Linked DNA regions of Homo sapiens: region 2 is linked to region 1. Evidence: fine-mapped expression QTL. A gene starts in region 1. The other region holds a variant in brackets. All regions are shown on one strand. Distances are between the middles of the regions. Region 1 holds the start of NLN (neurolysin). Region 2 overlaps NLN (neurolysin).

Region 1 (10,510 bases):
TTAAAAATTATAAAAGAATAACAATATCATATTTATAAAAAGAAAGTCTGTTCATAGAGGAAATTTTGAAAGCTGTTAAGAATTGGCTGTTCCAGGTGGCTGGATTATATATATATTTAATATTTTCTTTTGCTTGTCATTACTTGCTAAGTTTTCAATAATGAACACGCATTGCTGTCATCATTTTAAAAAACCAAGCTGTGTTTTTTAGGCCAGGTGCAGTGGCTCACGCCTATAATCCCAGCACTTTAGGAAGCTGAGGTGGGCAGATCACTTGAGGTCAGGAGTTCAAGACCAGCCAGGCCCACATAGTGAAACCCCAGCTCTACTAAAAATACAAAAAATCAGCCAGGCGTGGTTGTGGGGACCTGTAATCCCAGCCACTCAGGAGCCTGAGGCAGGATAATTGCTTGAACCCAGAAGGCAGAGGTTGCAGTGAGCCGAGATCATGCCACTGTATTCCAGCCTGGGCAACAGAGCGAGACTGTCTCAAAAAAACAAAAACCAAAAAACAAACCAAGCTGTCTTTTCTAATTGCAAGAGGAAGCTAGGCTATTACAGCTATTGTTTCGGCTAAATATTGTTGAGTCAACCTTCTCGTTTGTTTCTTTGACCATGTCACTCATCCCTCTTATTCTATAATATACATTAGGCTTTGCTTGGGTCACATGCTGTACAATCTGAGGTAGGAGGAGGAATTCTCCTGGTTTGCTATGGCAATATAGAGGTTTTTTGCTTTTTGTTTTTTTTTTAAGGCCTTAGCTATTATTTAGTCTAGTCCTTTTCATTTTACAATATAAGGAACCTGGGCCAGGCATGATAGTACACTCCTGTAATCCCAGCACTTTCAGAGGTTGAGATGGGAGGATCATTTGTGGCCAGGAATTCTAGACTAGCCTCGGCAACATAGCAAGATCCTATCTCTACAAACAATTTTTTCAAATTAGCTGGGCATGGTGGTGAGCGCCTGTAGTCCCAGCTACTCAGAAGGCTGAGGCAGGGAGGATTGTTTGAAACCAGAGTTTGAGACCGCAGTGAGCCATGATCATGCCCCACTGCACTTCAGCCTGGATGACAGAGTGAGACCTTGTCTCTAAAATACATACATACATAGGTACATAACTTGAAAGAGGTCCAAGGGAGTGAGTGATTTTTTTAAGGTCACAAAGTGAATTGAACAGCAACTATAATCCAAACTCCAGATTCTCAGTCCACTTATTCCCAAGAAGTTGGCTGAACACCCCAATCAATGATCCTAGCTGGAAGCTGGCCTTGGGAAGGGGATATAGCAGCTCTGCCAACAAGAAAACCCAATGGAAACTGTAAGTCAGTTAGGCAAAAGCCTAGTTACTCCATAACACTAAAATGAACTCCCAAGTGTCAGAGGAAACAGGAAAAACAGGAGAACACAGGGGGTCCTCCATGTTGTCTAATATGAACTCTTTTGGAAGATACTGATTTTGAAACAGAGCAGATTCTGTGATTAAGTCAAGGAAGCCCTGGGTTAAGGACTACCATATATGATGATTAACTGTAAGATATGCCCTTATGTAACAAATTAGTTAATATATTTATGGTAGCTTCTAACAAGGTAATAATTTTTTGGCTATTAGTATATTTATTTTCTTCCATGCATAAACAAAGAATCTAATACCACATATCGGCAGCTCTCAAAATGTAGTCCACAAACCTTAAAGGTAGAGGTATGGGGAGGGGTTCCTGAGACACTTTCAAGGAATCTGTGAGGTTAAAAATCTTTCATAACAATACTAAGACATTATTTATCCTTTTTACTTTATGAACATTTGCACTGATGGCGAAAAGGAATGGTGGATAATACTGTTGGTACTTCAGCACAAATTGAGGCAATGACACCAAACTATACTAGTAGCTATATTTTTCATTGCCATGCACTCAGGCTAAAAATAATGTCAATTTCATTTTAGAATATCCTTAATGAAATGGTAAAAAGTATGAATTTTTATTAAATCTCTACCTTTGAGTTATATGTGACCAAGTACACACAAAGCATTTCTGCTGTGTACCTGAGTATAAGGGTTGTCCTGAGGATTTGGTTGCCCAAATCAAAAGCACTTTTGCAATTGGTTGAACTGTGAGCTGAAATAGATTTTTTTCATGGAAAACCATTTTTTTTTTTTTTTTTTTGAGACGGAGTCTCGCTCTGTCGCCCAGGCTGGAGTGCAGTGGCACAATCTCGGCGCACTGCAAACTCCACCTTCCGGGTTCACGCCATTCTCCTGCCTCAGCCTCCCGAGTAGTTGGGACTACAGGCGCCCGCCACCACGCCCGGCTAATTTTTTGTATTTTCAGTAGAGACAGGGTTTCACCGTGTTAGCCAGGATGGTCTCGATCTCCTGACTTCGTGATCCACCTGCCATGGCCTCCCAAAGTGCTGGGATTACAGGCGTGAGCCACCGTGCCCAGCCCATGGAACACCATTTTTACCAGAAAAAAACTACTGACAGACAAACCAGGGTTATTCAGACTTAAGTATGTGGCAGAAATTCTGTCAAAAATGTAACAAAGTGAGATTGTCACTTCAAGTAAAACAACTGACAGTTTGTGTTACCAATGATAAAATTCTAGCTTTCAAGTGAAAACTAGAATTTTGGAAAATCCTATCTGCCACTGTGAGCTTGACAGCTTCCCAATACTTGAAGACTTTTCCGACTAAATAGGAAGACATTAAGGAAAGTGATTGTTTGATACTGTATAATGAAATATGTCAACATTAGGAAGAACTGTATAACACAGTGAACCACTAAAATTTCCGAAGGACTTATGCTTAATGTTTTAAAAAACAGGCATGGATTCAACATCCATTCAAAGTGTAAGGTACACCATTGGATATTAATGTAACAGTGTAAAACAAGTACATTGATATAGTTTCAAATTCCACTTTGTAACTAACCTTTAAAAAGCTACGATTTGTCAAACTTTGATGTGATATCAAAGAACATCCATGATTATCTTTAAAAAGCTATTAAAATATTCTTCTTTCCAACTTCATATGACTGTGAGGTGGGATTTTCTTCATCTTAAACCAAAATGAAACAGTGCAGCAGCTTAAATGCAGAGGCAGACATAAGAATCCAGTTACCTTCTATTATGTCACACATTAGTTTTGCAAAAATGCGAAACAGTGCCACTTCTGCCGGGCGCAGTGGCTCACGCCTGTAATCCCAGCACTTTGGGAGGCCGAGACAGGCGGATCACGAGGTCAGGAGATCGAGACCATCCTGGCTAACAGGATGAAACCCCGTCTCTACTAAAAATAAAAAAAAAAAATTAGCCGGGCGTGGTTGCGGGCGCCTGTAGTCCCAGCTACTTGGGAGGCTGAGGCAGGGGAATGGCGTGAACCCGGGAGGCGGCGCTTGCAGTGAGCCGAGATAGCGCCACTGCATTCCAGCCTGGGCGACAGAGAGAGACTCTGTCTCAAAAAAAAAAAAAAAGAAAAAAAAAAGAAACAATGCCACTCCTAGGATAACTGTTATCAAAACCAGGAAATAAGTGCTGATGATGATGTGGAGAAATTGGAATCCTTAGGTACTGCCAATGGGAATGTAAAAATGGTACAGCCACTGAAGAAAACAGTATGGTTTCAAAAACTAAACATAGTACTATCCTATGACTCAGCAATTTTCACTTCTAGGTACATACAGTATCCCAAAGAATTAAAAGCAGGGATTCAAACAGACATGTGCACATTAATGATCATAGTAGTAGTATTCACAATAGCCAAAAGGTGGAAGCAACCCAAATGTCCACTGACAAATGGATAAACAAAATGTGGTATATACATACAATGAAATATTATTCAGTTTTAAAAAGGAAATCCCGACACATGCTTCAAAACGAATAAACCTTAAAAACGCTATACTAAATAAACCAGACGCAAAAGGACAAATATTGTCTAATTCCACTTATATAAGGGACCTGAAATACTCAAATTCATAGAGAAAAAATAATGGTTAACCAGGGATTGGGGGAGGAAGTAATGGGCAGTTATTGTGTAATAGGTACAGGGTTTCAGTTTGGGATGATGACAAGTTCTGGAGATGGACAGTGGTGTTGGCTGTACCTCTCAATTGTACACTTAAAAATTATCAAAATGGTAAATTTTGTTATATCTTACCACAATTTTAAAAAAAAGGGAAAAAACCCCACAATGTTAATCTTCTCACTGATTGGGGGGCGGGGGGGTTGGTTTGGAAAATAGTTATTTTTCATTAAAATCACTATTTATGCACCTAGCCTATTTATTAGTTTTGTAAATTAACAACTACTTTAATTTTTTTCCAGCTTTAATGTCTAATATGGTAAATATAGACAGATATACCACACAAACAGAAGCTCTTAGGTCCACGGTAATTTTTGAAAGGTAAAGGGGTCCTGAGAATAAAAAGTTTGAGAATTGTTCTTTTTTTTTTTTTTTTTTTTTTGAGACGGAGTCTTGCTCTGTCGCCCAGGCTAGAGTACAGTGGTGCGATCTCGGCTCACTGCAAGCTTCGCCTCCCGGGTTCATGCCATTCTCCTGCCTCAGCCTCCCGAGTAGCTGGGACTACAGGCGCCCGCCACCACGCCCGGCTAATTTTTTGTATTTTTTAGTAGAGACGGGGTTTCACCGTGTTAGCCAGGATGGTCTCGATCTCCTGACCTCGTGATCCACCCGCCTCGGCCTCCCAAAGTGCTGGGATTACAGGCATGAGCCACAGCGCCCGGCCGAGAATTGCTCTTATATGAAGATTTATTCCCTCCTCTCACCCCTGCATTATGTGAAGTCTTCATTTCTTGGTATAACTTCATTTGACAGCTATATCGATTGCAGCCTGGAGACTAGCAAAAAACGACAGGCTGAAATATGGTCACCAATCACCACATTAACTCTTTGTAATTAACCACTGTCGCCTGCCTGCTCCCTAACTCTACGGACTGAGCAACACAAAGCTCCATCCACACAGACGAGTGGCAATGTGCAAAAGGGAACTGTAGAAAGCTTAAATGCTGACATGTTACAAAGTAGTTTTGTTGATAGCTAGCAAGAAGCACACATTTTCTTTATTCTGTTGAATCTTCATTTGGATTTACAGTTCTGGGCAGATTTGGAAACGGGGATGGTGGCGGCATTGTTTCCGAAAACCAGCGCATCCGTGCAAAGAATTTAATTCCCTCACCATCTTGCTACTGGTCTGTTGCAGTGGGGTGTGGTTAGAGGGCTAGGAAGCAATCCAAAACAGCAGCTCAGGCTGCCCAAAGCCGTGTCCAAGCGATCATTTTCTCCATTTTGGGCCAAGTCAATTTGCACCGGCAAGAGGCAGAATGTTTGTTTTATGGGGAGGAGGAAAATAAAAAAGGAAGTCAGAGAGCATGGACGGAAACAAGCAACACCACCAAAGAGGTTTCATCTCGGGTGGATGTTAAACGATTGGAATGCTAATAATGGGCGCGAGGAGCAAACACAATTGTTCTGAGTCCACAGCTGCGGCACTTTTAATGACAGGTCTGTAGTTCTGCATTGGGATTGAACGTGAAATGATTTTCTTATCCAAACTATTTGCATTCATTTTGGGCCGCGTCTGTGACCAGCCTCGCTGACTGCGGCTGAGGCAGTCCCAAACAAAGAGGAATGGACGTCCTCCCGAGGGAGCGGAGGCGGGAAAGGTGGCCCCAGGTGGCCGCGCCAGGTGTCCCCCAGGGGTCCACCTTGCAAGCCGCGGGGAGGGTGCGTCCCGGGAGCGTCGGAGAGGCGCGGTCGGGAAGGGGTGGGTCCGGGCTCCAGGCACCACACGGCGAAAGACCCCGCCCTGCCCACGGCCAAGGTTAACCCGCGCGCTGGAGGTACCTGCGGAGGCTTCGCACAGCCAAAAGGCACCGGGCGATCATGGGAGCGCTGAGAGGCTGGCGGCGGCGGGCGCGTGGTCCTTCGGCGTGGGGCGGCGAGGCGGGCGGCAGCGCCTGGGCGCCCGGGAGTCTCGAGCCGGCCTAGCCGCAGAGGCCACAGTGGCTGCCTGGCCAGCGCCCTCCCACGTGCGGCAGCTCCACGCCGGCGCCTACCAGCCCCGCCCCGCGCCGTGCCCCGCCCCAGCTCGCGTGTCTGGCCCCGCCCCAGCCCTCGCGTCCGGCCCCGCCCCAGGGGCGGTGCTGGCCAGACCCTGCCGCCTGAGAGAGAGCACAGCCTGGTGGGTTCTGGGGTCTACGGCCTAGGGGCCGGGGAAGTTTGCGCCGCCGCGACCAGTGCTGCGATCCCGAGCCGGGCTCCAGCCCCGAGGACCAGGGGTCGGGCGGGCCTGCCTACGGAACCCCGCGGGCCAGCAGCAGTCGTCTCGCGTCCTCCTGCTTGGTAAGGGGCTTCTGTCTGGCAAGGGTGCGCCTCCCGCCGCTCCGGACCGGGGCCCGCACCGGCACCCGCTGCACACCGGGCAGGGCCGAGGCGAGGCCGGGTACCTGAGGGAGGACGGAAGGGAGGGGGAGCTCGATGCGCTCTGGGGAGAGGAAGGGGGAGAAGCCTATTTCCCTCTTCTCACCCCTTTTCCCCCCATTCTGTTTTTACCTTCTGCCCTGGGGCCTTATTTAGTGCTTATGACCCCGTGGCCTAGAGGCTGACATCGCCTTTAAAATAACTACACAAATAATAAACATTATAGCGGCGGGTACCACACCCTGGCTTTGAATTAGGGAACCTGGGGAGCAGATGGATGATGCGATTTGGTGGAAATCAGCCATGAATGCCGCCTGGCCCTGCGCCACTGTTTGGATGCGATAGTATTCCATGTGAATGAACATGACCGGGAGCTTCCAGCTTGTCCACGAGAGCACAGCCTCTGCAGGGAGCGCCGGTCGGCTTGTAGTATCCATCGACTTGGGCAGCGATTTCCTGACATGTCTGCTGATTAAATAGAAATGCCATTTTTATTAAGAACGACACTCACCACTTGAATAACCTTTCGCGAATGTGTTTCCTCATCAAATAACTCTCAACCTACAAAAGTGGGTAGAGTGTACATTATTAATACTTTTTTTAGATCCCATGAAAAAGAGGAAGATGCTTGGTATACATCAGCTTTTAGTCAGCAGTATGAAATGCCTCTTAACTTAGTACTGAGGCCTTTAGGGGATTTCTGTATGGTGAGATATGCAGTGACAGTCTAAGCTTATGCTGTACATGTTTTGAAGACATTTTTACTTATTCCAAGATTTAACATACTCGTATACCACTGGGTATTAATGAAAATATGTAATAAATTACCTTCACAATACTTTGTGCTCTCCTGACTCTTTACAAAGAGAAAAGATGAAAGGTCATACAGTTTTGTGTTTTGTTTTTACCTTTAATACACTTTATAACCCATATCATCTTTGTAATTTATGACTTTCCTGACTGATTCTTTAAAATAACTTAGTTCAGTGTTTTCATTTTTCTTATCAAGGAAAAGTGTTTAAGCTTCTAAAATGTCATCTATCAAGCACCTGGTTTATGCAGTTATTCGTTTCTTACGGGAACAAAGTCAGATGGACACTTACACCTCGGATGAACAAGAAAGTTTGGAAGGTATGCATCTGCTCTTTGTGTTCATTTATATTATAATTATAAACGAAGACTAAAATAGCTGTAAGCCCAACTTGATGATCTATTGTAACATAATCAGAATTTTTTTTGATCTTTCAAGAGGAGAGGCCTGACTATAAGGTTATCGTATTTCCATTTTCTGAAGCTTGTTTTGTTTGTTTTAACAACAAATTAAGAGGACTATTGTTCATTTATTGAACAAATACTATATGTCAGAAGTATGCTGTTCATATTATAGGCAATTTTTTCTTCACAGCAACTGTTATGTTAGTATTATCCCCATTTAACAAGTGAGAAAATAAAACCAGGGCCAGGCTTGGTGGCTCATGCCTGTAATCCCAGCACTTTGGGAGGCCGAGGCAGGTAGGTCATTTGAGGTCAGGAGTTCAAGACCAGGCTGGGCAACATGGCAAAACCCTGTCTCTACTAAAAATACAAAAAGTAGCCAGGTGTGGTGGCACTTGCCTGTAGTCCCAGCTACTCAGGAGGCTGAGATAGGAGGGTGGCTTAAACCCAGGAGGTGGAGGTTGCAGTGAGCTGAGATCACACCACTGCACTCCAGCCTGGGCCATGAGCGAGACCCTATCTCAAAAAAAAAAAAAAAAAAAGAAAAAGAAAATGAAACCAAATAGCGTAAGCAGATAACACAGCTGATATGTGATAAAGCTGAGATTTAAATCCTGGTTAATACTCTGAAGATCTTGTTGTCTCCATTTCCTAATAGGAAAGCATCCAGTTTAGAAATAATATATAAAAATACCTGAGTCATTTTAATAGCACTATGTAAAAGTCTAATAATTATACCACTAGTGAGATCTGACCAGTGCCTAATTTGGAACTTGAAATGGGAGCATTTCACCTGTGTTTTACGTTAACTTTAATATTGGATTCGGTAATCTGTAAAGTTGAACAGGATGTGGGTGATAGCATCATGTGTTTCCTCGACACCGTCTTTGTTCTTCATGTTTATGTGTTATAAAATTTAAATTCAGTACAACCATAACAAGGTAGAATTCTGCAGATGGGCTTGTGGAGGTTCAGTGAATCTGGTGTCCCTGTGGCCTAAAGTCTTTTATTTATTTATTTATTTTTTGAGACAGGGTCTGTCTGGCTCTGTCACCCAGGCTGGAGTGTAGTGGCACAATCTCGGCTCACTGCAACCTCCACCTCCTGGGCTCAATTGATCCTCCCACCTCGGCCTCCTGAGTAGCTGGGACTACAGGAGTACACTACCACACCCGGCTAAGTTTTGTATTTTTTTTTGTAGAGACAGAGTTTCGCCATGTTGCCCAGGCTGTTCTCAAACTCCTGGGCTCAAGTGATCCACTCGCCTTGGCCTCCCAAAGTACTGAGATTACAGGCATGAGCCACCCCTCCCAGCCCCAAAGTCTTAATTATTGCAGTGAGAGTGCATTTGGAAGAACTTAATAAATGACAGTATAGTTATAAATCCCATCTTGAAACTGCTTCTATAATTTCAACAAGCATTTCCCTGTGAATATGCTTTTAGGAGGTGGAGATGAAAATTGGGCATTTGCTCTAAACCTCCTTGCAGTCTGGTTAGTTGATGTCTTTCCAGGTGGCAGTGAGAGGAGCAGGTGATGCACAGTTGGAGAACATTGCAATCAGTCCATTTAATATTAAGGTCTTTTTGTTCTCCTTGATGATTAGACTATGTGAAAATAAAGTTGATTGGTTATCTAAGGAGAATGTTAGTTATGATTGCTCTGTAGCAAACAGATAAATGCAGTCATTTAAGAAAAGATGTTTCTTTTCTAATCAAAAGCAGCATAAAAGTTTTAAGGGCCAGAAAGAAAATTGAGGGTTTTTTTTTCAAACCAAGATGTTATGTCCTATTTTTAGGATGGTATTCAGCCAAAAATATGTGCCTTCAGCTGTTTGTTATATATGGCAGTCAGAAAGGGTGCCAATTGTTTTTGACTGACCCCTATTTTTGACTCTGTGAGTCTAATTTAATTGAACATGAAATCATGTGGAGGTGTCTGCCCACCTTCTAGACATTTTTAAAAGCCCTAGGAAAGAAGCCTCAGTTCTAATACCAGCTTTACCACTACTGTGAAGCTGGTATATCATCAGCTTTGTCTTGCCATCAGATTATGTCACCCACTCCTCTTAATTATTGTCATCTACTGACATTTGCTTCATTCCTTGACTAATTGTGGTTCCTGCTCACTGTCACTCTCTCTAGCACTACTCCTATTTAGTTCTTGGCAATTGCAATATACTGATTGATGATTATTTTAGTTCCCTGGCTCTCAGTTATTGACCTCATCCAGTGATCTCAAACACTTGATCATATTCTAGATCAGTGGTTCTCAACTTGGGGGTGATTTTGCAATATCTGGATACATTCTGATTGTCACAACTGGGTGAGGCGGGTGGCTGGTATTATTGGCATCTAGTGAGTAGGTAGAGGCCATGGATGCTGCTAATGCACAGGACAGCCCCTGACAAGAAGAAATTACCTGATCCAAAATGTCAGTATGCGGAGATTGAGAAAGCCTTCCCTAGACTTAATCATTACCAGAATTGCATTCCTTCCCTAATCTCTATCCCAAACATTTCACTTCCTGACCACTATTGCCTGTCTTTCCAAGATTACTCCCTCTAGAATCCCTACTCCAGCTATTCTTTGACCCAACCAGTACCTCCAATCTGTTCATGCCTCACCTTTCCCCACACCTCTTCTTACTCATCTTAAATTCCATGGTTGATAATTATAATTATTCCCTTGTATCTCCTTCCCTTTCTTGCAAAGCCCAACTTTGTTTAAATCCAACTCTCCACCTACTTTGTGCCCAACTACTCACACCCACTCATGTAGCCGTAAATAAATGGAGCAAAACACACAACTTTGCTGACTAGTCCCACTTTAAATTCATGACTGTGAACTTCAAGTAG
Region 2 (10,510 bases), 64 kb before region 1:
CTCACCTCGTCGTGTCTCAGGAGAGAGGGACGACCTGCCACTGGCTGTGAGAAGTTCACCACGAGGGCAGCCACTGCCATCATCCGGCTTCCATCAGGCAGAAGGCAGCCAGGCTGGAGACCGAAGCAGGCCGCATGATTGTATTTTCCTTCCCTAGGAGCCAGAAACACGCGTTGGCAACATAGGAAAATTCTCCTCTAGCAACTACACTGGCATGGCCTCTTCCAGTCATTAAGCCATATCTGTTACCAGAGATGCCTTTAAACATTAATTTACCTTTTAGAAAGTAGGTTATTTTGCTAAAATGGAAAAACTAAAGCTAAACAAACAATAACCCCACTAACATTCTGTGTGAGCTCCGAAGTTTCTTTTATTGAAAAATCTCGAGGTAAGAATGAAGAATGCATGTCACACCGACAGCTGAATGTCCAATTTATTTTAATGAGGTTCTACTTTTCTTTTTCAAAGATGGGATTACTAAACACTAAACAATGCTGAAACCCACATTTGAAATAAAAGATACAGTTTGACTCACTAGGCAGCCTTTTCATTAAAATCGGAATAAAAAACTGAATTTCTGACGATAAGGTTTTTCCTTTTATTTGAGGAGGAAAGAATCAGTAATCACAATTAAATAAGCTTCTTTTATAAACTAGACAGGCCTTTTTGAAACAGAATGCTTTTAGTTAGCCTGGGAAAATGCATAAATTATACTATCAATTAGACTATTCTTGTACAGTGTCGTATCTGTGTGGTCTTTCCAAAAGCTATTAGACTTCATTCTCCAAAAGCTATCAGACTTCATTTTGGGAGTACGTGTCCTTTCCCCCTTTTCTTTTGCTCAGAAGACTAATAGTACCTGGTCTTTTTATTTTTTTTTTTTTGAGACAGAGTCTTGCTCTGTCATCCAGGCTGGAGTGCAGTGGCATGATCTCAGCTCACTGCAACCTCTGCCTCCCAGGTTCAAGCAATTCTCCTGCCTCTGCCTCCTGAGTAGCTGGTATTACATATATACAACACCACGCTGGTTAATTTTGTTCTCTTGTTTTGAGACGGAGTCTTGCTCTGTTGCCCAGGCTGGGGTGCGGTGGCAAGATACTGGCTAACTATAATGTCCACCTCCTGGGTTCAAATGATTCTCCTGCCTCAGCCTCTAGAGTAGCTGGGACTACAAGTGCCTGCCACCACACCCAGCTAATTTTTGTATTTTTAGTAGAGATGGGGTTTTCCCACGTTGGCCAAGCTGGTCTCAAACTCCTGACCTCAGGTGATCTGCCCTCCTTGGCCTCCCAAAGTGCTGGGACTATAGGTGTGAGTCACTGTGCACAGCCTAATTTTTGTATTTTTACTAGAGATGGGGTTTCACCATGTTGACCAAGCTGGTCTTGAACTCCTGGCCTCAAGTGATCCACCTGCCTCAGCCTCCCAAAGTGCTGGGATTACAGCCACTGCACCCAGACAGTACCTGGTCTTTTTAAAACCTATTCTGAATACCCTTTTTAAAAGTCAGTTAGACAAATAAAACAAGTTAATCCCTTTTACCTTTATGAAGAGAACATCTTAAGATGACAGGAAGTAAGTATTAACTAGGTCACTACTTTCACAAAGATTACTCTCTGTTACCCACACCAGGGTGCTGGTAGCAATGACCAGATCTCTCAGTACAAAAGAAATTAATTATATCCTGGCAGTGAGACAGCAGAATGAGGTAGCAAGAATTGTTATTTGACGCTGGAAAGAAAATCTGAGGACAGTTATAGGAGACTCCAATATTAAAGGATTACTCCTGAAAGAGTTCTTCGGTTAAAACTATATCCTGATACTTTTTATTTAAAAATAAGACTCATCTATATTTGGCAGGGTTTTACTTTTAGGTCATAATATTAGTGAAAGTAAGTCCATAAAGCAGCAGGTGATGTGATTTGGCTGTGTCTCCACCCAAAGCTTATCTTGAATTGTAGTTCTCATAATCCCCACGTGTCGTGGGAGGGACCCAGTGGGAAGTAATTGATTCATGGGGTAGCCAGTCTCATGATAGTGAGTGAGTTCTCACAAGAGCTGATGGTTTCATAAGGGGCTTTCCCCTGTTGGCTTGGCACTTCCCCTTCCTGCCGCCACGTGAAGAAGGATGTGTTTGTTTCCCCTTCTGCCATGATTGTAAGTTTCCTGAGGTCTCCCCAGCCCTGCAGAACTGTAAGTCAATTAAACTTCTTTCCTTTATAAATTACCCAGTCTCAGTCAGTTCTTTACAGCACTGTGAGAAAGGACTAATACACCAGGATAATCACTTAGGTGCTAAAAGACACTTCTGCCCACCAACTAGATGACACAGTTACTCAACCTACTTTTCAGCACTCAAAGTCAGTGGATTACAAACTTGTGTGTATTACTGAATGAGGGGGATACTATACTCTCCTTTGATCTATTTAAATGATTAGTAATTGTAAGAGGTTGACTTTGCTTTAGAAAGTAGCCTGGGGAGAAAGAGATCCAAATCCTTTTGTATCTGATGAAACACTATGGAATCTATAGTTATTACATGCTATAGACACAATTATAACATTTTTATAATTGTTACCACTGATATCTGGGGAAGATGATTTGCACATATAGTCTTTAATGCATAAAACAATCCTGTAAAAGGATTTCCAGTCCCATATTACAGAGGAAGAAACAGAATCTCAAAGAGGTTATGTCACTCAAGCATTCAAACTCAAATCTGACTGACTGCAAAGGTTTTGCTACTTCTACTAAACTGTGCTGCCTCTCAGCCAGACTGAAGGGAGTGGCCATAGATTATTGGCAGACAGATTATCTAATAAATATTTTGGTGCTCAATTTTATTTATTTATGTTTTTTGAGTTAGAATCTTGCTCTGTCGCCCTGGCTGGAGTATAGTGGCGTGATCTCAGTTCCAGGGTTCAAGCTATTCTCATACCTTGGCCTCCCAAGTAGCTGAGACTACAGATGCCTGTTAAATTTTTGTATTTTTAGTAGAGACAGGGTTTCACCATATTGGCCAGGCTGATCTTGAACTCCCGACCTCAAGTGATCTGCCCACCTCAGCCTTCCAAAATGCTGGGATTACAGGTGTGAGCCACCATGTCTGGGTGGTGGTCAATATTCAATTAAGTAAATGTAGTGCACAAACTAGATGATGATGATAATGACAATGGTAGCAGCTAACTCTGATTAAGCCTTTGCTATGTGCTGAGCAGTCTTCTAAATGCTTTGCATGTATTCAACCAATTTAATCCTTACAGTGACCATACAAAGCAGGTACTACTAATATTCCCAGTTTATAGGACCTATAATATAGGTAAGAAAACTGGGGCACAGAAAAATTAAGTAACCTACCTAGTAAATGATGATGCCAGACATTCTGGCTTCAGACCCACATTTTAAATCTGTATACTAAGAAGCCCATGTGAGAAATATGGAAGAGTAGAGTCTTTTTTTAAATTAATTTTTTTAGAGATAGGGTCTAGCTCTGTCACCTAGGCTAGAATGCAGCAGTGTGATAATAGCTCACTGTAACCTTAAACTCCTGGACTCAAGTGATCCTCCTGCTTCAGCACAGCTAGGACTACAGGTGTGCACACCACACCTGGCTAATTTTTCATTTTTTTTTTTTTGAGACAGGGTCTCACTCTGTCACCCAGGCTGGAGTGCAGTGTTGCAATCTTGGCTCACTGCAGCCTCCACCTCTGAGGCTCAAGTGATCCTCCCACCTCAGCCTCTCAAGTACCTGGGACTATAGGCATGTACCACTACACCTGGCTAATTTTTGTATTTTTTGTAGCAACAGAGTTTTGCCATGTTGCCCAGTCTGGTCTTGAAGTCCTAGACTCAAGCAATCCACCTGCCTCGGCCTCCCAAAGTGCTGGGACTACAGGCATGAGCCACCACACTTGACCTAATTTTTAAATTTTTTGTAGAGACAGGGCCTCACTATGTTGCCCAGGCTGGTCTCGAACTCCTAGCCTCAAGCAATCCTCCCACCTTGGCCTCCCAAAGTGTTGGGATTACAGGCATGAGCCACTGTGCCTGGCCAAGAGTAGAGTCTTAAAGTAGGCATAGCTGAATCCCTAAGGTCCCTTCCAACAACGTGATCCTCAGTACCTTGGATAGAGGTCCAAATAGAACTGTCCCAATACTTCTCCTGTAGCTTTATCCTTCACAGTATAAAGTGTAACACTCTTGTTCCAAACATGAGCATCTGTCATTTGTTCAAATGAAAGTCCCAACAACTCCTGGTAGGTGTTCAGCAAGCCTTCAGTGACCACCTCAATTGGGAAGTATTCCTTGAGGAACTCTTGGTCTATGGAATAC[T/C]TGAGTTCCTCTGTCTGAGTCATGTAGTAATATAGATCCCAGGCATTGATTTTCCCATCATATTCAAAACCCCTGTCTTTGCATTCCTTTTTCTTCAAATTCAAAATAAACTCTCGTTCTGCTTCACCCAAGGGTTTTAACTTCTGGCTTAAATCATCTGTAAGGAAAAGGAAAAGTTAGTGATCTACTTGCTTTTGGAAGCAAGCATACTCATAAATACCACCTGTGTTTTAGCATGGTGCTTCCTCCTTTGCAGTACTCAATACAGATAAATAAGGCGGAAAGAGGTAAAGGAGGAGGAAAAACGTGAGGGAGGAAAGCAGGCTGTATTATGGAAGCACACTTTGCTCTTCGGGGTTATTGATTTTATGGTCCTAGCCCCTTTTTCTTTTAACACCCCCAGAACTGGGCCATGAGTTCCTCAATTCATCACCAAAGCTCAAGTTTATCTCAGAGAACGCTGACTGAAGAATGTTATTCAGGGAAAAAAGCACTAGTGAAACTAAAGTCATGTACATGATTATTCTTCAATGAAGACAGTCAGACTCCTAAGAAAGCTAGGGAAAACACATCAGATGTGACCTGTGGTCAATGTTATCTAGAAATTCCTATCACTGGGTTTAGTTTCTCATTACCCCATTTCTGTGAAGGTTTATCTGGACACAGCAATTCCAGTTTTTAGCTGGAGAAACTTCTGAGAACCACAAATTATATTGCTGTGGTCAATTTTTCACTTTACTGTATTTGGATAAATGAGTATGGTCTTATGTATTTATTTTTTACATTTTGTTACATACGTTACGATAAAAACATGCCTGGCTCTGCAAAGGACATGGCAGTTCAGAAGGCAACCTCACAATGTGAGAGATGGAGGAGCAGCCCGAGGAATACCGTGAAGAGAAGTGAGGAAACTCATGGAGGATACAAAGATATAGTTTTCCATATATATATCCATGTGCATGTGTGCGTGCATGTGTCTGTGTGTGCGCATGTATGTATACACACACACACACACACACATACATATATATATATATAAAGAGAGAGAGAGAGAGTGAGTGAGTTTTGCTATGTTGCCCAGGCTGGACTCCAACTCTCAGATTCAAGGGATCCTCGCACTTTAGCCTCTCAAGAGGACACTTTGCATAGGAATATGCCAATCTCAAATTAGAAGGAAAACTCCTTTAAATGAATTAAGTTAATCAGGTGGTTACTAAGGAAAATTTTAGTGTATGCAATCACCACTGAAGGAAACATTCTTTACAAACCTGTTAACTCTCTGAGCCATCCTCTTGTATACCATGCATCAGACTGTAGAGTAATTACCTGTTCACACTTCTGTTGTTTCTAGTAAGTGACAAATCCATTGAGAAAAAGACCTTGTCTCTTTTTAAAAAATTATTTTTATTTTTAGAGACAGGATTTTGCTCTGTCACCCAGGCTGGAGCACAGTGGCATGATCATGGCTCACTGCAGCCTTGAACTCCTGGGCTCAAGGGATCCTCCCACCTCAGCCTCCCAAGTAGCTAGAATTACAGGCATGTGCTACCATGCCTGGCTAATTTTTAAATTTTTCTGTAGAGACAGGGTTGGGGTCTCTTTGTTTCCCAAGCTGGTCTTGGACTCTGGGTCTCAAGTAGTCCTCTCACCTCGGCCTCCCGAAGTGCTGGGATTACAGGCATGAACTGCCATGCCCAGCCAAAAGGACCTTGTTTTACTCCTTTCTGTAATCCTACTATTTAGCATACTGCCTAAGGCTGAATAGTTATTTCATAAACGTCTCATGAATGAATGAGTGAATTATACAAAAACAAATATGTACCATTTATGGAGTTTAACATTATAGTTACTAGATAACAGTTTTTATACATATTATTTTATATTAGTTATTAGATACTAGTTTTATGTATATTATTTTATATTAGTTTTGTATATTAACAAGTGGTTTCTGGAATATTAAATGTTTTTTGTTTATGTATGTTTTATTTTTATGTACGTCATATTTGTCAGCTTATTTTATACAAATTCATAAGCAGCCATGCTATGACTACTAAATCCCTAGTGAAGAGAATAAAGCCAGTAACTTTAGTAACTCTCTGTTAGAACCTACATGTCATGTTAGGAATTAGTATAAAAAGCCTAAAGAAGATATAAGATACAGTGAAGCCAGGCCTATACTAGCAATATAAACAATAAGCAGTCCCTACAACCAAGCACACTATCTAACACTTAATAGGTGATCAATATACTTCTCTCAAATGAAGGAAAAGTAGGATGTCCTCAAAGGCATATTATGTTCTGAGGCCTTCTGTCTGGTTGACATGGTATAGCAAAACAGTCATAGAAAAAAAAAAAAGAACTAACCTAGAAAGGCTGTTACGCGGCTTGTGCTCTTTGCAGTGTTCATTTCAAGGACGAAGTCAGCATGTGTGCTATAACCGAGTAGTTTGGCCACCTTGGTTCGCAGTGGGAGTAGCTGCTGCAAAATTATGGTGTTTTCCTAGTAATAAACAACAGCAACAAAATAAAGGCTAATCAATAATTTGATCCAAAGCACTAAAAGGAAGAATTACTGTATGTATTTTTAGGTTTGTAAAATTATCAAATATTTTTAGACCATTTAAATTTCTGGTTCCATTTTGGTGTTATAGGCTTTTTTTTTTTTTTTTGGATTCATGATTTCGTTTTATTTCTGAAACAATTTATGACTTTTTAAACTTCAGAACTATGAGGTCTTAATAAAATTGTAGGTGCTACAAACTTAGAGTGAAAATATATTTTTAAGGAATATAGCGAATCCATATTTACTTCTACTGACAGAACTGCACCAAATATTGGTACTTTCAGTTCCTTTGGACATTTTTATTGTGGTAAAATACACATAACGTAAAATTTATCTTTTTAATTTCATACCCAGTTGTATGGCTACTATTTTTAAAAACATAGAAAATGTGCTGGTGAGGAAATGGAGAAATTGGAACCCTTGCACATTGCTGATGAGAATGTAAAGTAGTTTAGCTGCTGTAGAAAACGGTATGGTGATTCCTAAAAAAATTATACCATATGATCCAGCAATTCTACATCTCAGTAAATAACAAAGATAATTGAAAGCAGAGACTCGAAGAGAGATCTATACACCCATGTCCACAGCAGCATTATTTATAACAGCCAAAAGATGGAAGCAACCCAAGTGTCCATGGACAGATATACAGGTAAACAAAATGTGGTATATATATACAATGGAATATAACTCTGCCTTTACAAGGAAGGAAATTCTGACACATGCTACAACATGGATGACCCTTTAAGGTATGCTAAGTGAAATAAGCCAGATACAAAAAGACAAATATTTTATTATTCCACTTATATGAAGTTCCTAGAGTAGTGAAATTCACAGAGACACAGAATAGAATAGTAATTGCCAGGGCCTGGGGATAGGGGATAATGGGGAGTTAATGCTTAATGGGTAGAGTTTCAGTTAAGGAAGATGAAAAAACTCTGCAGGTGGATACAGGTGATGGCTGCAGAAAAATATAAACATATTCTCAATGTGAATATACTTAATGCCACATGCTATGGTCTGAATGTTCCCCAAAATTCATGTGTTGAAACATAATCCCTTTTGAGGTAGTGTTAAATGGCAGGGCCTTTTGGGAATTGACCAATGAATTAGTGCCTTATAAAAGGGCTACAGCTAAAGAACTTGGGCCTTTTCTGCCCTTCCCCCTTCTGCCATGTGAGGATATAGAAAAAAGGCCCTTTCTAGACACTGAATGCCGATGCCCCTTGATCTTGAATTTCTCAGCCTTCAGAACTGTGAAAAATTTCTATTGTTCATAAATTACTTCGTCTGTGGTATTTTGTTATAGCAGCACAAATGAACTAAGGCACCATAAAATTCTGCTTTTAAAAATGTTTCAGGGATTTTTCCCAAATTAACATTACAAATATCTTTTATATTTTATTTGTATTAAAAATACAAAAATTGATATTATTTTATTATTTTCTTAGCAATGAAATAAAAGTAATTCTCCTAGAGGAAGTAAGTAAATGTTAAAGTAAAAGAAAAAACTGATTCCAATAATCAAATCAGCAAATTATTTATAGACTGGTTTCTAAGGAAAATCACACACTGAGGTCACACTACCTGCATTCAAAATTTGGTTCCACCATTTACTAGTTACCTGATCTTGGGCAAATTCTGGAGCTTTCTGACCCTCAGTTTTCTCATTTGCAAGATGTGGAAAATAAAAATACATACACTGGAGAGTAATCATGAAGATTCAAATGAAAATATATGTAAAGTGCTTAGACAAATGCCTGGCACATAACCAAACACTATATAATTATCTGTTATAATTATTATTATTTTAAAACTAAAATGGAAAACATAGAAGAGAAACATACATAATGTAATTCTCCAAGTTCTAAAATTAAATAGTTTAATTAGATTTTTCTTTCATTTTTTGCAGTTTCTCCAGATCTTCTCTCTAGACTGCCAATTTTCTCCCAATATCTGTTCTCTCATTTTTTCTTTTAGTAATATAACTCTGAATTTTTTTTTTTTTTTTAATTTTCATAGAGGTGAGGTCTTGCCATATTGCTGAGGCTGGTCTTGAACTCCTGGCCTCAAGCAATCCTCTTGCCTTGGCCTCCCAAAGCGTTGGGATTACAAGTGTGAGCCACTGTGCCTGGCTGAACTCTGAATTTTTGCCGGACACTTGGTTACCTAATTACGTTTCCCAGCCTTCCTCAAAGCCAGCTGTGGCCATGTGATACTCAATGGGACAATGGGATGTGAATGAAGTGATGAGTGAAATTTCTGGGTCATGTCTGATAGATCTTTGCCTTGCTGGCTGTGAACTGAAGATGACCTCAATGACCCTGAAAGCCACACCCTGAGGATGGTAGAGCTGTCTTCCACCTCTGGACCACTCACCTCTTGACTTACAGTTATAAGACAAATCTTTTAAAAAAAAATTGTGGTAAAATCTGCCATTTTAGCCATGTAAAATTCAACGGCAATAATACTCATTCTATTGTGCAACCACTACCATCATCTGTTTCTAAAACTTATCCATTACCCCAAACAGAAACTCTGTAACCATTAACTCCTCAGTCTTCCCTCTCCCCATTCCCTGGTAACCTCTAATCTACTTTCTGGAAAGATAAAACTTTTATCTTATTTGAGTTAACTGTGCTTTTGACTTCTGTCAAGTCCCTTAGCCTGGACCCTAACATATGTAGAGATTAATACCAGAAATTGGGTGGTACTAACAATAAAAATGAAAAATGTACAGGAATGGAAGGTAAGGACCCAGACATTGCAGGCTGGGAAGCAGGTTCTCATTATACCATGGGCATTTGTGAAAACTGTTGCTTGCCATAACTCAGACAGCAGGCCATGTACCTACTGAGTCTTAGCCTAGAGGAATTGTTTGGGAAAGCTAATACTGTTGGGAGGTGTTTTTTTGGCATTTGTTGCTTTTTGAAAGATTACATGGGAGAGATAAGCTTGGGTGAGAATTGGCCAGTTTCTAAAGATGGAAGGAAAAGAATTCTGCTCAGGGAGGTTCTGCCTATGGCCTACAATCTTCAGATGGTTGGAAAAGCCAATTGCTCTGTGTTCCTAGTGTTAAGAGAAAAGGCTGTCACTCCGAGTTACTGAACTGCAGACATGAATTTGAGAATGCTGCCTTCCTCCACAAGCTCACTATGTTCAGAGGGCCTGAAAGCAGACTTCATTAAATGGAGGAAGAGTGAGATGGATAAATTCAGAAGACAGTATATAAGATTTGGCAAGTTTAAGAACTATGACCAAAAGTGATATTTGGGTATAGTTATTTTGACATGCATCTGATTAGCAGCAAACAGACAACAAACCTACATTTTTGAGGAGGCTGTATTACCAAAGATATCGTAAGTCTGGCCTACAAAAGTTTGGATTATTTGATCCCTAAAGCAACCCTTGGGATTCTACCTGACATTAGCAGGACCAGCAGTCCCCCAAGATATGGTCATCAAGGATAATGGACAAAAACAATTCCCTGTGGGCAAAACTGGGGGCCATGGAGTAAAATTGATAAAGGAATTCTTATGAGAAAGCAGACCCAAGTTTAGTCCAACAAGCTAACCAAGAAACGTCACCATAGTACAGAATCTTCCCAGTTCCTGAGGA

What was found.
Region 2: its variant is fine-mapped to the expression of NLN in whole blood (TOPMed, PIP above 0.99). The same link has a PIP of 0.9 or more in blood mononuclear cells.

The regions. Positions count from the first base shown.
Region 1 is chr5:65,717,768-65,728,277 of GRCh38, reverse strand. NLN (neurolysin) reads right to left here and starts at 6,073. Exons shown (of 13, transcript NM_020726.5): 1 at 5,864-6,073. The coding sequence starts at 5,904. SGTB (small glutamine rich tetratricopeptide repeat co-chaperone beta) reads left to right here and starts at 6,169. Exons shown (of 11, transcript NM_019072.3): 1 at 6,169-6,361; 2 at 7,449-7,570. The coding sequence starts at 7,471. RefSeq lists silencers at 924-973, 5,759-6,368, 6,439-6,488, 6,549-6,598, 8,643-8,839 and enhancers at 4,809-4,888, 4,661-5,482.
Region 2 is chr5:65,782,097-65,792,606 of GRCh38, reverse strand. It overlaps NLN (neurolysin), which reads right to left. Exons shown (of 13, transcript NM_020726.5): 7 at 6,697-6,832; 8 at 4,123-4,489; 9 at 1-153. Among named protein-coding and RNA genes, the nearest start is that of NLN, 65 kb to the right of the region's middle. The variant T/C (reference allele first, on the strand shown) is at 4,333.